Homo sapiens: one gene and its partner. The protein of the gene in region 1 interacts with the protein of each later gene in a biochemical or structural test. Each region holds a gene or a part of one and is shown in the gene's direction. Other genes may lie near its edges.

Region 1 (7,759 bases):
AAAAAAAAAAAAAAAAAAAAAGAAAGAGATTTTCAAGTCCTGGTTAATTGAATCACCAGAATAGCTCATTGGAGATTGTTTTGTAAAGAGGAATGGCAGTTTATTTATTGATTGTGGGAAATAAATGTGTGGCCTTGAGCCTGACCAACCATCTTACAGGTTCCTCTCATCCCTGTGGGTAAGGCCATTTAGGAAAAGAGTGTTTTAGACCCGAGCATGAGTTGATAAATGTGGAATTTAGAGCAAAGGAAATTGAACCAAGTTGTGATCAGTTTTTGAATTGCCCTATCCTTAACCTGAGAATGGTCATTTAGACTCCATTTTCATGATGAAATTGGTCTGCAGTCTCCCTTTCTCATGCCCTTGACAGCTTTTGGTATTAAGGTTATGCTAGGCTTCTTACAATACTGAGCATTTGAGTTTGGCAGAGCTATTTTGTTGTCCAGGAGGGCTAACTGGGAGTACCTAACGCATCCGTGTGGACACATGTCATCTTGACGAGGAATTCATTGCTAGCATTACTCTGTGGCAGAGGCAGGCCATGGAGAAATGGTACGGGACAGGCACATTTCGAGGGCACTAGAAAGAGCTTGGAGTTTAGAACATTTTAAACATTGGGTACCTGGGAAAGAACAGTCAAGGGCAGTGAAAAGAAACGTTGGCCATTTTTTTGTATTATCTGGGGCCACCTCTGGGTTCAGAGAACAAACCAAACAGTATGCCTCAGAGTGGCAGGTAGGTGGCCCAGGAAACTTCCCAGGGAGCCCCTCTACCCTACCCTTCCTTCAACAAGTACATCTCTTTTTCTCTTACTCACTCTCGCTCTCTGTCGTTAGAATACCTGTTCCCTCGAAATACCCCATGCCGGAAACACAGTGCTTTATTTTTAATGTTTAGAACAACAATATATAAAGCCAACTTCCTCCCTCTGTCTGTCCCTCCCCCCCACTCTCTCTCTTTGTCTCTTTCTCTTTCTCAACGGGGTCTCACTCTGTTGCCTGCCACTCTGTCTGGAGGGCAGGGTGTGATTATAACTCACTGTAGCTTCAGACCTCTTGGGCTCAAGCGATCCTCCCACCTCAGCTTCTTGAGTAGCTGGGACTATAGGCACTTGCCACCATACCTGGCTAAATTTTTTAAATTTGTTGTAGAGATGAGGTTTCCCTATGTTGCCCAGGCTGGTCTCAAACTCCTGGGCTCAAGTGATCCTCCTGCCTTGGCCTCCCAAAGCGTGGGGGTTACAGGTGTGAGCCACCACGCCCAGCCCCCATTCTCTTTCTTGATAATAATCAAGGCCACATTTTATGATCTGAGATATTTCCTCCTGTCCCCACCCCTGTTCCCATCCTTACCTGTCCCACCATTTAGCATCTTTTGAGCTGGAATCTGAAGGCAGGGCAGGAAAGATAAATGATAAAATCTATACTTTCTTCCTTTGAAAGCAGGAGGCCTGTCTCTGCCCTAAAATTAGATGTGTCTGTTCTGTGTCCCCAGGTCATACAGGCATGCGTGATGGGCATTTAGTTCTCCTCAGAGGCAGGGAAATGCAATCGGAGAAGCATGGGGTGGGGCAGCTGCTTCACTCTGGGCGCCCCTGTCCACCAGGCCACGAGGCAACCGCAGAGAGAAAGGGCAGTAAGTTTCAGGACCCTGGAGTTGCTCAGGCAGTGTTAATTCTCTTCCCCTTCCTTGAGTTTAGCTCTTTTTTTGTTCTGTAGCACAAACTTAGCAGTCCTTACACAGTGGTGAAGAAGAATAGAACAGTCCAGAAAAGGGCCATCTCTCCTGAGTCTGTATTTCCTCTTCCACAGGAAGCTAAAAACACTCTCTGCCTGATACAGAACAAGCTCAAGGAGGAAGAGAAGCGCCTGCTCAAGAGTGGAAGTAAGGCTGGGCTTCGTAGACGAGCAGTTTACTCTGGACTAGTATTTTCAGCCTTGAAATATATATAGAGAGATATATATATATTTTTTAATATGTATTTTCTTCTTTTTTTCAGCAGTTTTTTTTTTACTGTAGTAAGAACACTTCACTTTACATCTTCAATTTTGAAAAGTATAATAAATTATTGTTGACTATAGGTACAAAAATATTTTCAAAAGGCGGTTTTCTCACAACTTCTATATTGGGTACCATTGTATTCACTCAAGAGTCTGGTTTAAATATAGCATTTAAAACACATTTCGTTCTTGTGCCAGTTAAGATAGTGTTTTCCCCTGTTTAAATGATAGTTTGAATTATATATGATGCGTAACTATAAGAAAACATGGCCCTAGATGTGTGTAGGGTTCTGTATTTTCAGGCTGAATGATGGAAAGCAAGCACTGGGATGCAGTGCAGGGAGAGGGGCCGCTCGCTTTGTGATGGTCCCCATGCTGCTGAGATGCCCCCCATAATCCAGAATGGCTCAGCAAGACACTCAGCTGGAGAGACACAGGGTTACGTCCATGCAAAGCCTAGATTCCGGGAAGGAGCTCTCTGTGACCAGGCAGCTTCCCTTATCCTTGTGTGGGCGGCAAGCCGCCCAGGTGCCGAGGCAAGAGACCGAGAGCACGAGCTGTTCCAGTATAATAAAATATATAAAATAAGAATAGTTATACTAGATATAGATCATAGATATGATTATATATGAATATCATTAATCATTAGTTTATAGCAATTACTCTTTATTCCAATATCATAATAATCCTCGCTCTACAATCATAACCTAGGAAAAAACAGGCCATACAGATATAGGAGCTGAGGGGACATGGTGAGAAGTGACCAGAAGACAAGAGTGCAAACCTTCTGTTATGCCCAGACAGGGCCACCAGAGGGCTCCTTGGTCTAGTGGGAACACCAGCGTCTGGGAAGCCGCCCGTTGCCAAGTGGACCGTGGTCTAGTGGTAGCGTCAGTGTCAAGGAAAAACACCTGCTACTTAGCAGACCAGGAAAGGGAGTCTCCCTTTCCCCGGGGGAGTTTAGAGAAGACTTTACTCCTCCACCTCTTGTGGAGGGCCTGACATCAGTCAGGCCCGCCCGCAGTTATCCGGAGGCCTAACCATCTCCCGGTGATACTGTGCTTCAGTGGTCATGCTCCTAGTCTGCCTTCATGTTCTGTCCTGTACACCTGGCTCTGCCTTTTAGATAGTAGTAGCAAATTAGTGGAAGTACTAAAAGTCTCTGATAAGCAGAAATAATGGCGTAAGCTGTCTCTCTCTCCTCTCTGTCTCTCTGCCTCAGCTGCCAGGCAGGGAAGGGCCCCCTGTCCAGTGGATACGTGACCCATGTGACCTTACCTATCACTGAAGATGGCTCACTCTCCTTACCCTGCCCCTTTGTCTTGTATCCAATAAATATCAGCACAGCCTGGCATTCAGGGCCACTATCAGTCTCCACGTCTTCGTGGTAGTGGTCCCCCAAGCCCGGCTGTCTTTTCTTTTATCTCTTTGTCTTGTGTCTTTATTTCTACAGTCTCTCATCTCTGCACATGGGGAGAAAACCCACCGACCCTGTGGGGCTGTACCCTACATCCCTGAACTTCAGTGTCAAGTCACTGTCAGGGACCGGTAGCAGCCCAGGATCTTCCTGCTGAATTGATGGCCTTGTTGCACGGAGTTCCTCCTCCTCTTGCTGGTTGCCCTTTCTTTTCTTCAGGGTGAAATATTCTATTCACTCTCATGTTGAGGGCAGCATACTTGAGGCATCAGGCCCACACACATGCTCCCACACACACTCTCTCTCTCTCTCTTTCTCTTTCTTTGCCATTTCCCTTGTATCTCTCTCATTTTGCACCTGTTCTGTGACTCTCTCGTCTGAATCTCAGGAAACTTTGGAGGAAGGATAGGGACTGCTGGGAAATCCTCCAGGAACAAGGTTAGGAAATTTGAAGGGCCTGTCTAGCCAAAGCAGCCCTCCCCTTTTTAGTTCCATGTCAGCCAGGAGCATGTGAAGCAGCCCTCAGTGATCAGCCTGCATGGGGTTTGTCCCTTGCGAGAGGCCCAGCTCAGCTAGGAGCCCTGGTTTGTTGCTTGCATCCCATGCTGTCCCCGGGCCAGGATGCTAAGACCTGCCATTCTGATCTTGCTTTATTCACCAAGATTTACCTTTGTGTTTTCTTCTAGGAGTTCTATAGTTTTAGCTCTTACATTTAGGTCTCTGATCCACTTTGAGTTAATTTTTGTATATGGTGTGAGACAGGGGGTCCAACTTCATTCTTTTGCATGTGGCTATTCGGTTGTCCTATTATCATTTGTGGAAAAGACTATTATTTCCCCATTGAGTTATACTCGCATGTTGTCAGCCATTAATTTTAATTGTCACTGTCAGCTCAGTGGTTTCAGTGTCAGCATGCATTAATGTCTTAGTCTGTTTTGTGCTGCTGTAACAGAATACCTGAGACTGGGTAATTATATATTTTACATAAAATATATACAGCATTGTATATATGGATACATGCAGTCATCCCTCAATATCTGCGAAGAACTGGTGCCAGAACCCACCTGTGGATACCAAAATCCACAGATGTTCAAGTCCTTTTCATGTAACCTATGCACATCCTCCCATATACTTTAAGTCATCTCTAGATTACATAAAATACCTAACATAATGCCTATACATCACTTCATTCACATGGATTCAACATAGTACTTGGTATGTGGCAAATTCAAGTTTTGCTTTTTGGAACTTTGTAGATCTTTTTTGAACTTTGTAGATTTTTTTTCCAAATAATTCAGATCCATGGTTGGCTGAACCCATGGATGTGAAATCCATGGATACAGAGGGCCAGTTTTGTATGTGTGTGTGTGTGTGTGTAGTTTATATATATATGTCATATATATTATTATATATAATATATATTATATTATATATTATTATATATAATATATATTATATTATATATTATATAATTATATTATATTATATATATTATATAATTATATATTATTATATGTTATATATTATTATATATTATATATTATTATATATTATATATTATATAATATTATATATTATTATATATTATATATTATATAATATTATATATTATATATTATTATATATTATATATTATTATATATTATATATTATTATATATTATATATTATTATATATTATATATTATATATTATATAATATTATATATTATATATATTATTATATATTATATATTATATAATATATATTATATTATTATATATTATATAATATATATTATATTATTATATATATATTATAATATAATATATTATATAATATATTATATAATATATATTTTATAATATAATTTATAATTTATAAATTTATATTTATAATTATATATGTTATATAGTTATATATTATTATATATAATAATATATGACAATTATATAACATATATAATATATTAGTATTAGGTTATATTATTATCATTATAATCAGAAACTTACTTGTCTGAAATTTAATGAGCCACAGTTCTAGGAGCAAGCCCAAGATCAAGGAGCTGCATCTTGCCGCACCATCCCATGGCAGAAGGGCAAAGAGAGGGCGAGAGAGAGCAAGAGATCAAACTCACAGCCTCAAGCCCTTTTATAACCAGCATTAATCCATTCTTCAAGGCGGAGCCCTCATGACCTAAACACCTCCCAGTATGCCCCACCTCCCAACACTGTTGCATTGGGATTTAAGTTTCCAACACAGGCTTTTCGGAGACACATTGAAATCATATAATAGCAATTGACTTTAGTTTACCTGCTCACTTCTCAGGTCTGTATTGGTTTGAGTTGTAAGAAGAAATCTTATTGAGCCTGAGGTACATGTATTAATTTTATTTTAAAATTGATTATATAATTTGATTTGCATTGCATGGGATAAGGATTTAATGTCTTAATTTCCTGGATAGAATAAGAAATGAACAAATGACTTTTGCACACAGACCTTACTGGGCAGAGCTGTTTCGTTGTGATCATGAAGCCACTCCTTTGTTTTGCCTGCTTGTGTTCCTGCTAGGTAACGATGACTCGGACATAGACATCCAGGAGGACGATGAATCCGACAGTGAGTTGGAAGAAAGGCGGCTGCCCAAGCCACAGACAGCCATGGAGATGCTCATGCAAGGTACCCCGGCGTCTTTCGCTGGACTTCCTCCCTGCGCCCTGTTTCACAGAACACCTGGCCAGGACTGGGGCAGGCTGCTTAGTATTGAGGCCCACAAGCGTGCTGCGAATGGCCCCTAGAAGCAGCTCTTGCTCAGGTTTATCCTGTCCTGTTGTTTATGGCTCTTGAACTGCTCAGTGGTCATGTTTGCTCCTTGTCTGTGATCCCAAGACTGGATGGTTCATATTTATGGCTTGGTATTTCTCACAGCCACAAGAACACATTGCCTCTGCCACTCTCAGTGCAGTGATATACTTAATAGCCTGAGAATTAATGCAGAAAGGGACTTAAATGAGCATCTCTGCCTTAAAAAAAGTTCTTCTAATTCCTTTACTCATCACAAAAGATTCAAGCAACAAAGCTCAGCGCAGTGGTGCACACCTTATTCCCAGCTACTCAGGAGGCTGAGGCAGAAGGATCATTTGAGCCTAGGAGCTCGGAGCTGTAGTATGTGATGATTGTGTCCGTGAATATCCACTGCATTCCGGCCCGGGCAACATAGAGGGGCTCTTAAAACTAAGTTAAGCCAGGCGCGGTGGCTCACGCCTGTAATCCCAGCACTTTGGGAGGCCAAGGCGGGTGGATCACGAGGTCAAGAGATCGAGACCATCCTGGCTAACACGGTGAAACCCCGTCTCTACTAAAAATAAAAAAAAAATTAGTTGGGCGCAATGGCGGGCGCCCATAGTCCCAGCTACTCGGGAGGCTGAGACAGGAGAATGGTGTGAACCCAGGAGGCGGAGCTTGCAGTGAGCCGAGATCACGCCACTGCACTCCAGCCTGGGCGACAGAGTGAGACTCCGTCTCAAAAAAAAAAAAAGAGTTAAAACAAAAAAAGACTCAGGCAACAAAATTTGTAGAGCAAATGTGAATTCTCTCCTGGGGTCTTCCTCATGTCCCACTCCCACCTGGGAGGGCTCATGGCTAGTGGCCAGGGTGGGTGTGTCTTTACAGATTACCTTTCTGTACATATACATACGCACACACATACACATACAAAGATCACCTGAAAAAAATTTAACCTGAGTGCAACCAGACGGTATGTATGGTTCTGCAACTTGCTTTTGTTTTTAAAAATTAAGTACAATTGGAACTCTTCCTCTGTCAGCAATAGATCTGCCCCCTAATTTTTTTTTTTTTTCTTTTTGAGACAAAGTCTCGCTCTTGGTCCCCAGGTTGGAGTGCAATGGCATGATCTTGGCTCACTGCAACCTCTGCTTCCCGGAGGGAGCAATTCTCCTGCAATCCCAAGTAGCTGGGGTTACAGGCCCGTGCCACCACACCCAGCTAATTTTTGTATTTTTAGTAGAGACGGGGTTTCACCATGTTGGCCAGGCTGGTCTCGAACTCCCAACCTCAGGTGATCCACCCGCCTCGGCCTCCCAAAGTGCTGGGATTACAGGCCTGAGCCACCACTCCTGGCCTGCCCCCTACTTTTTAATGGCTATGTCATATTCCTAGCAGGACTGTACCCATGATTTACTGGGCGTTCTCGCATTGATATTTCCCCTCTTTTCCTTGTATATACATCTTTCTGCATGTCTGCATATCTTTAGGTTGCATCATTAAAAGTCAAATTCTTAGGTCAAAGGTTCCATAAATTTTTATTTTAATACTATAAAATTCTCCTATATTTGCCTTTAAA
Region 2 (7,024 bases), on another chromosome or scaffold:
AGCCAAGGTGAGTTACAGTGTTTGATGTGTTCTGCTTAACAAGACTGGAAAGCAGGCTATACATTTTTGGATATTTTCCAACAATACGGGGAAAATAATAAAAAGCTGTGGTACAGTCATGCACCATATAATGACATTTTGGTCCAATGACAGACCACACATACGATGGTGGTCCCATAAGATTATAAGGTAGCTGCGCTATATAGGCATACCATTTTTTTTATCTTTTATACCATATTTTAAATTGTACCTTTTCTATGTTTAGATCTGTTTGGATACACAAATACTTACTATTGTGTTACAATTGCCATTGTGTTACAGTATTTAGAACGGCAACATGCTGTACAGGTTTGTGGCCTAGGAGCAACAGGCTATACCATATAACCTAGGTGTGTAGCAGGCTAGACCATCTAGGTTTGGGTAAGCACACTCCACAATGTTTGCACAATGAAAAAATCACCTAGCAATGAAGTTGTCAGCATGTATCCCCATGGTTAAGTGACCCATGTCTGTACTTCAAGGGTTAAGTTTCATCATCCAGAAACTTCCCTCTTGCAGATCCCCTTAGGAAGCTGATCACAGGAGCCATGACTAACTGCCAGCCTCTTGGCCTTGCTACTAGAATATCCACCTGGTTCACCTTCTGCTTAAAGGTTATCCATGATCTCAATCCACATGTCTAATGAGACCAAGGACAGGCAGAGCAGGACACTGGCTATAGACTCTGAAATCTAGAAATCACTAATTCAAAATGGGGCCAAACACTCTGTGGGGACAAGCCGCTAAGAAACCGGGGCCCCCGCCTTCAGCAAGCCCCTGGGGAGGTCATTTGGACCCCAAGCCAAATATGGTTGGGGAGGATACCAGTTAGCAGCTTGCTGGATCGCTCAGTGGAAACGCTAGCCTTGGAATCAGCACCACCATCATCATTGCCGAGCACGTATCACAAAGTAAGCATTGTGTGGACAAGGCAGGGGATTCCGAGACAGGCAAGTTCCTGCCTTCAAGGAGCTCATAACCTACTGAAGGAGATGTACACTGTAAGTGAAGATGATGCAACAAGAGTTAGTAGCCCTCACTAAGCACTTGGCACGTGTGTTACCTCATTTCAGCCGCACAACAATCCTGTGCTTATCATCACCATTCTAGAGATGCGGAAACTGACATCCAGCGAAGGTAAATCATTTACCTAACGTCTTCAGCTGGCAAGTGGTGGAGCCAGGATTGATACTCAAGCTTTGACGTCAGAGGCCATGCCTGCAGTCCCCACGACCAGTGCAACGGACAGCACAGATAAGGGCCATGGGGGAACACGCAGGTGAGGAGCTTGGGGGTGGGACTCTGGGGTCCAGGGTGGGCTTTGGAAACTGCTGGATGCAGGTTGTAAAATTGCTCTGCTGCTCCTTCACCAGGGGGAACCCTGAGGCTCCACTGTTTTCTAAAGCAAAGGAGGGCTATGATGCCTCCATTAAGGAGCGTTGTGAAGATGAAGGGAGCCGACCTAGGGAGGGTGCACAGCACCATCTTGGGCATGTTCCACTGGACCAAAGGCGACCAGAGAGAGCACATGAGCTTTTGTGGGGAGGCTGTGGTCAGGAAAGGGCTTCACGGAAGAGGTGGCTTTTAAGATGGGCCTTGAAGGATCAGTCATTTTGGCTTAACTTCAAGGAAGAGAGCAGGGTGGGGCAGGCATGGGCAAAGACACTGGAGATGAAAAAGCTGGGGCCCATCTGGGGAGCAAGCTGGCTGCAGCCCAGGGAGAGAGCTGGAGAGTAGATTGGGACATGGCTAGAAAGGAAGGTGAGTCCACATTTCAGCTGGCAGGGCAATGACCTCTGCCCATGTTTACTGAGATCCACTCTGGGTATGTGCCAGACACCAGGCATTATCAGGTCTGTCCTTTGAAGACATCCTCTTTATAGAAGGTCGGGCACAAAGGCAGCAGAGGCACAGCAATGGACTGGCGCCTTCCTTTCCTCCTCTCCTGCCTCCCCCTGGGGCTGGGCATTACACAACACTGGAGAGCAAAAGGCAGGTACTGCTGACGTTAACTGCATGTACTGCTGACATTAAACAGACCGCCATTTCACTGTGCACTGGCAAAGGCGCGCGTGCGTGCGCACACGCACACACACACACACACACACACACACACACGGTGAGAAGCCAATTTGATTCTCCAAAGGATTGTATAATTCTTAGGTGATTTTAAAATAGCTGATGAAGAATCCACTTTAATCTTTTTTGGGTGGGTGATGAAGGGCTGAAGAGCATCGCTAAGACACTTTTGACAGAATCATTAACAAGAAATAAGCCGTCAGCACTCAGTTGCAAAACCAGCAGCTCCTAAAACCACCATCTTTTACACATTCCGAGGGCCACAGAGGCTTCCTGGATGACCAGAGTGTGTGAGGGGGCAACCCAAAGAAGAGGCCTGGCCCAGACCAGGCCCTCCCCAGCAACTCCCACGGGTCACAGACTTCCCTTCTGAGACGAGCAGAAACACCACCACTGACATGATCTTCTTTCACGACCCATGGAGGAGCAATTCACCTTGGAGAGAATCAGAAGACATTAGAACTGGAGGGAGGGAGGAAAGCAAGGAAGTGTAGGCAGGCAAGTTTGCAGGTCTGATGGCAGAAGGCTGAGGAAGTTTCCATATGATGGCTTCTATTTTCTCTCTGAAGAGGGCAGTAAAGGTATCTTCTAAGAGGGAGGAGGGAGGGAGGTGGGAGAGGGAGAGGTGGGAGGTTTCGCAAGCAAAACAACGTTTTGAAATAGCCATTGAGAAGAAAGGAGAGGCTGGGCGAGGTGGCTCATGTCTGTAATCTCAGCACTTTGGGAGGCTGAGGCGGGAGGATCACTTGAGCCCAAGACTTCAAGACCACCCTCAGCAACATGGCAGAACCCCATTCTACAAAAAATAATAAAAATTAGCCAAGCATGGTGGTGCACGCCTGTAGTCCCAGCTACAAGGGAGGCTGAGCTGGGGAGGTCCAGGCTGCAGTGAGCTGTGATTGCACCACTGCACTCCAGCCTGGGTGAAGGGGCGAGACCCTGTCTCCCCTTAAAAAAGGAAGAAAAAGAAGAAAGGAGGGAGAGAGAACCCAGTGGTCGGTTGGGGATGGAAGTGCAGGGCTGAGAGTCTAACTGAGGTTAGAGACCTCGTGTTTCTGTTACACCAAGGTGTGTGGCTGGCCAAGACTTCTTCAATACCCGTGTGTAGGTGGACTGGTTTGGCTTCAGGTTTCATCAGATGGAAGGAGAGTAGGACTCGGGCAGGGAGGATCCTTTTGAGAATGCCGAGGTAATGGGCCAGGATAGGGAAGAAGCAGATTGATATCGAGGGGGAAAGCGGAGACAGCAATGGACAGGAAACCCAAAGATGGTGAAAAACAGATACAGCGGAAGTGACTCAAGTGGCTGGAAGTGGAAGAGATTGTGGCTGGGGACATCAAAGGAGGTGCAGATGCTGTTGATAAGGTTCCCAGTGTGGCCCCGGAGTGGGAGGCTGATGTGAAAAGAGGTCAGGGAACTGGCGCTGAAAGGGCTGTACTGAGGATGGGGGCCCTGCTCCCCGCAACTCAGATACCCTAGAAGCATCCACTCAGAGTTTAGGGTTCCGAGAATCCATCAGTCCCACAGCCTCATTTTAAAACCAGGGACACTGAGAGGGTCAGGGCCTGACCCAAGGTGAGAAACGGATTTTGAGACTAGTGGTGCTGCTCCCCGCTCCTCCATGCCCCGGCCAGGGCTCTCCCTCTCCCAGACACTCTCCCCCAGAGAGAAACAGAGGCGGTGACGCTAGGAAGAGGAGGAGAGAAGGAGGCCGCGGGTCCCTGTCGCCTCCAGGCCAGGCAATCCACTCCAGGCTCGCAATCCACCGACCTGGAGTTCACGGCCTCCGCCCTCCTGGCCCAGCGGCCCCCACCCGACCCCACCCGACCCCACCCGACCCAGGCCGGTTCCGGTCACGCCGGAAGCACGTGGCCCCCCACCCTGCGGCGTTGCCCGGGAGACCAGGGTTGTTTACCAGCAGGACAGAGCCCGGGCGCAGGCGGCGGATGGAGCGGAACGGCTAGGTGAGAGCGGCTGCCCGATCCCGCGGCCTGCCCTTGGCCTCCGCCAGGCCTGGAAGGGGCCGGGGGAGGCCAGTCCCCGAGACCCCAGCACATCACCCGGGAGGGCCTCCCCAGACCCAGCCCGGGGGACGCAAACCCCGGGAGACAGGCGAGGAGCCTGGAGAAAAGTCTGCTCCCGAGGCAAAGCAAGCCTGGCCAGAGCTCACCTTTACCAAAATAGGGTGACTCCCGGGCTCTGCAGAAACCGAGGGACCTATGCAACCGCTGGGCCATGCCCTCCAGGCTGGGATGTAGCGACGGGGACACAGACCCAGGGAGAGAAAAGGATGTCCCAGTCTCCGGCAGGGCAGAGACGAGAACCAGAGGGCCCCTCCCCCAGTCCTGTGCTCTTTCTCTGAAGTCAATTCTCGCTTTCTAAACGCTCTTTCTCGCCCCTCCCCCAGATCCCTCCTCTGCCTCTTAAGCCTGTTGCCTTCTAGGGCGCTGGAACTTGGACTTAATTGAGTTATCCCCACCACCTCCCTGCCCTTCTGACGCTGGAATCATCCCCAGTTCTCTATCCAAACATTTGATCACTTGGTGGCTTGTGGTTCAGTGTGGCACTCTGCATAGGACAGTGTATTCTAATCCCTAGTTTGGGGTAGAACTGGGAATGGTACCAGAGTTTTTTCATTCTCAGGCCAACCACCATCTCCTGTTGGTTCTTCAGAGCATTTTTATCCTGAAAGCCTGGTGGGGGTGTGGGTTGGGGGGGGCGGGATGGCAACGGATAGGATTAACTGATACAGTTTTAAAAGACCAATTCAAATGTATGTATCTTGGTATATACCAGCAGATGGTATGTAGGTGGTTATATTTTACTGCATATACTGTAGGCTTAGATTTGGGTTGTGAGTGAAATAGGGTGGTCTGACCCTGTGGTGGGTGGTGGGCACCCTTAGAAAGCAGGAGCCCTGCTTTAGCTTCTCCTATCCACATTTCCTTCTTTCCAGTTGATTTGGTGGTGAATCTTAAGGAATGGGCACCTGCCCTTCTGGCAACTTCTTGGAAACAGTTGGCAGTGTTTGCTTCCTGACTCCTAGCAGGCCGCTGGGGTGCAGCTATTGTGTTTAAGTAAACAGGCCACTCGCCTATTCAGCTTGGCAGCTTGATAGATGCCTACGCCTAGATCTTGTCAAATCGGTTTGTGGTTGAGTGGCTGCCAGGCCTAGAGGTGGTGAAGTGAACTGAGCAGGGAGAATCATGGCTGCTGCCTCAATCCTGGACTGAGGGTGGTGGGCAGAGTTCAGGACCTGAGGTGTGAATATAAAGGCACAGTTGGCCCAGATCCCCAAACACCTGTTTCCCCCACCGCCCATCCCTGTGTGATGGGTGCTGGGGAGAGCTGGTGTTCCCTCCGTGTAACAGATGGTCCCTGTGCTCGGGAGGAGGCAGTGGGTTATGAAAGCAGGTTGGATATAATGGTTTTACCTGAAGGAGGTGTTAGTCTCTAAATAACCATGAGTGGGCTCCTAGGAATTAGTCATAATTGAGGTTTTTCTCTGAGATAGCTCACAGTCATGTTATCTTATGACCAGGGTGTCTTGAATATGACACCCCCTGAACATGGATAATTATATGGAACCAAAAGGTATAGAAAGTGCATGCACATACTCAAGTTTTACTGTTAAAAATAATCCCACAGAGAGCCTGTGAGAACACATGACTCTCCTCATCAAAGTTGTTAAGGAAGAGGTTTCTAAGTTACCAAACTCACTGACAGTTAAACCTTCCTGAGGCATGTGTGGGTGTTGGAAGCCAAGCCTGTGATAATTCTGTAGAAGCTGTGGCAAATTAATAGCCATTCCACAAGTGGGGAGGGTGGGCCGAGAGGGGCGTGGGTTTGCCTGTGGAGCTTATCTTTGGCAGAACAGTTGGACAGTTATGACCTTCTCCTGCCATCCTGAGTGAAAGTGCAGAGCTGCTAATTGCCAGAGAAAGACTTGAGAAGGAGACTAAAGGGGGAAAAACACATTCTTCACAGTTGATCAGAAAATAGATGAAATTAACAAGGAGATGGGCAGTCTTTTTTGATGCCAAAAGTTTGCTAAGGAGAAGGCTCCTGAGCTACTAGCAGCCAGACTGGGTGTGAAAGACGAGGGAGAAGTGGAAAATGGGAGTGGAGAGAGACTCAGGCTGTGAGTGGAATGCAGCAGACATAGAGGCCTTTAAAAGAGGGTAGCTTTGTCCAAGATTTTGAATTGAGCAGGACATCAGGAAGATATAGGGATAATGTGTTGCGTTTGGTCCTGGTCTGAGTGGAGAGGAAGCAGATACTCCTTAAAATTAGGCAGCAGTGGTTACATGTGCAGAATGGTGAGGTTAGAATACAAACCCTGAGAGGCTCAGATTACATTGTTCAAGATTTTGTGATGAAAGGAGTGAATTTGCAGGAAGTGCAAATCATTCTGCAGGAAGTGAATCTGAGGTAAGTAAAATGTGGAATTAGAAGAGAAGTGATCAACTCGGGATTTTATTTTCACATGTTTTGAGGCAACTGCGTAGGTGGTAGCTCATTGCAGTCCACCTCCCTGCATTTCTGTGCAGTGGACAGGGCAGGCATGAGTTTCAGGACTCACCCAGCTGGTTAACCAGGAGTAGAATCACCGAGGACACACGGGGAAAAGTTCTAGAGCAAAACAAGGAAGGCTTTTGAACTTAGCACATAGGAAGCACTAAACAGACAACCCGAAGCAAACAACGACGACAACAAAAAACGCTTAACATTTAATTAAGTTTCTACCATGCACTAAGCCTGGTGCTTCCCACCTTACCTACATTATTTCATGTTATTATCCTCATGTTACAGACAAAAAGACTGATGTTCTGAGGTACTTAAGTAATACCTCTAAGATCATTTAGCTAATTTGATAGATGAGGAAAGTTTTGTGCCAGAAAGGTAG

Evidence for each region. Proteins that work in one complex are often made in the same cells at the same time.
Region 2: the proteins of CLUAP1 (region 1) and UBXN10 form a complex in vitro, tested with the Homo sapiens proteins (one study listed by BioGRID).

What each region holds. Positions count from the first base shown.
Region 1 is NC_000016.10:3,524,601-3,532,359, forward strand, and holds part of CLUAP1 (clusterin-associated protein 1), read left to right. Parts: intron 1-1,811; coding exon 1,812-1,884; intron 1,885-5,967; coding exon 5,968-6,075; intron 6,076-7,759. UniProt on the Homo sapiens protein: Required for cilia biogenesis. Appears to function within the multiple intraflagellar transport complex B (IFT-B). Key regulator of hedgehog signaling.
Region 2 is NC_000001.11:20,182,072-20,189,095, forward strand, and holds the start of UBXN10 (UBX domain-containing protein 10), read left to right. Parts: upstream 1-4,024; 5' UTR 4,025-4,082; exon of another isoform or gene 4,083-6,549; intron 6,550-7,024. UniProt on the Homo sapiens protein: VCP/p97-binding protein required for ciliogenesis. Acts as a tethering factor that facilitates recruitment of VCP/p97 to the intraflagellar transport complex B (IFT-B) in cilia.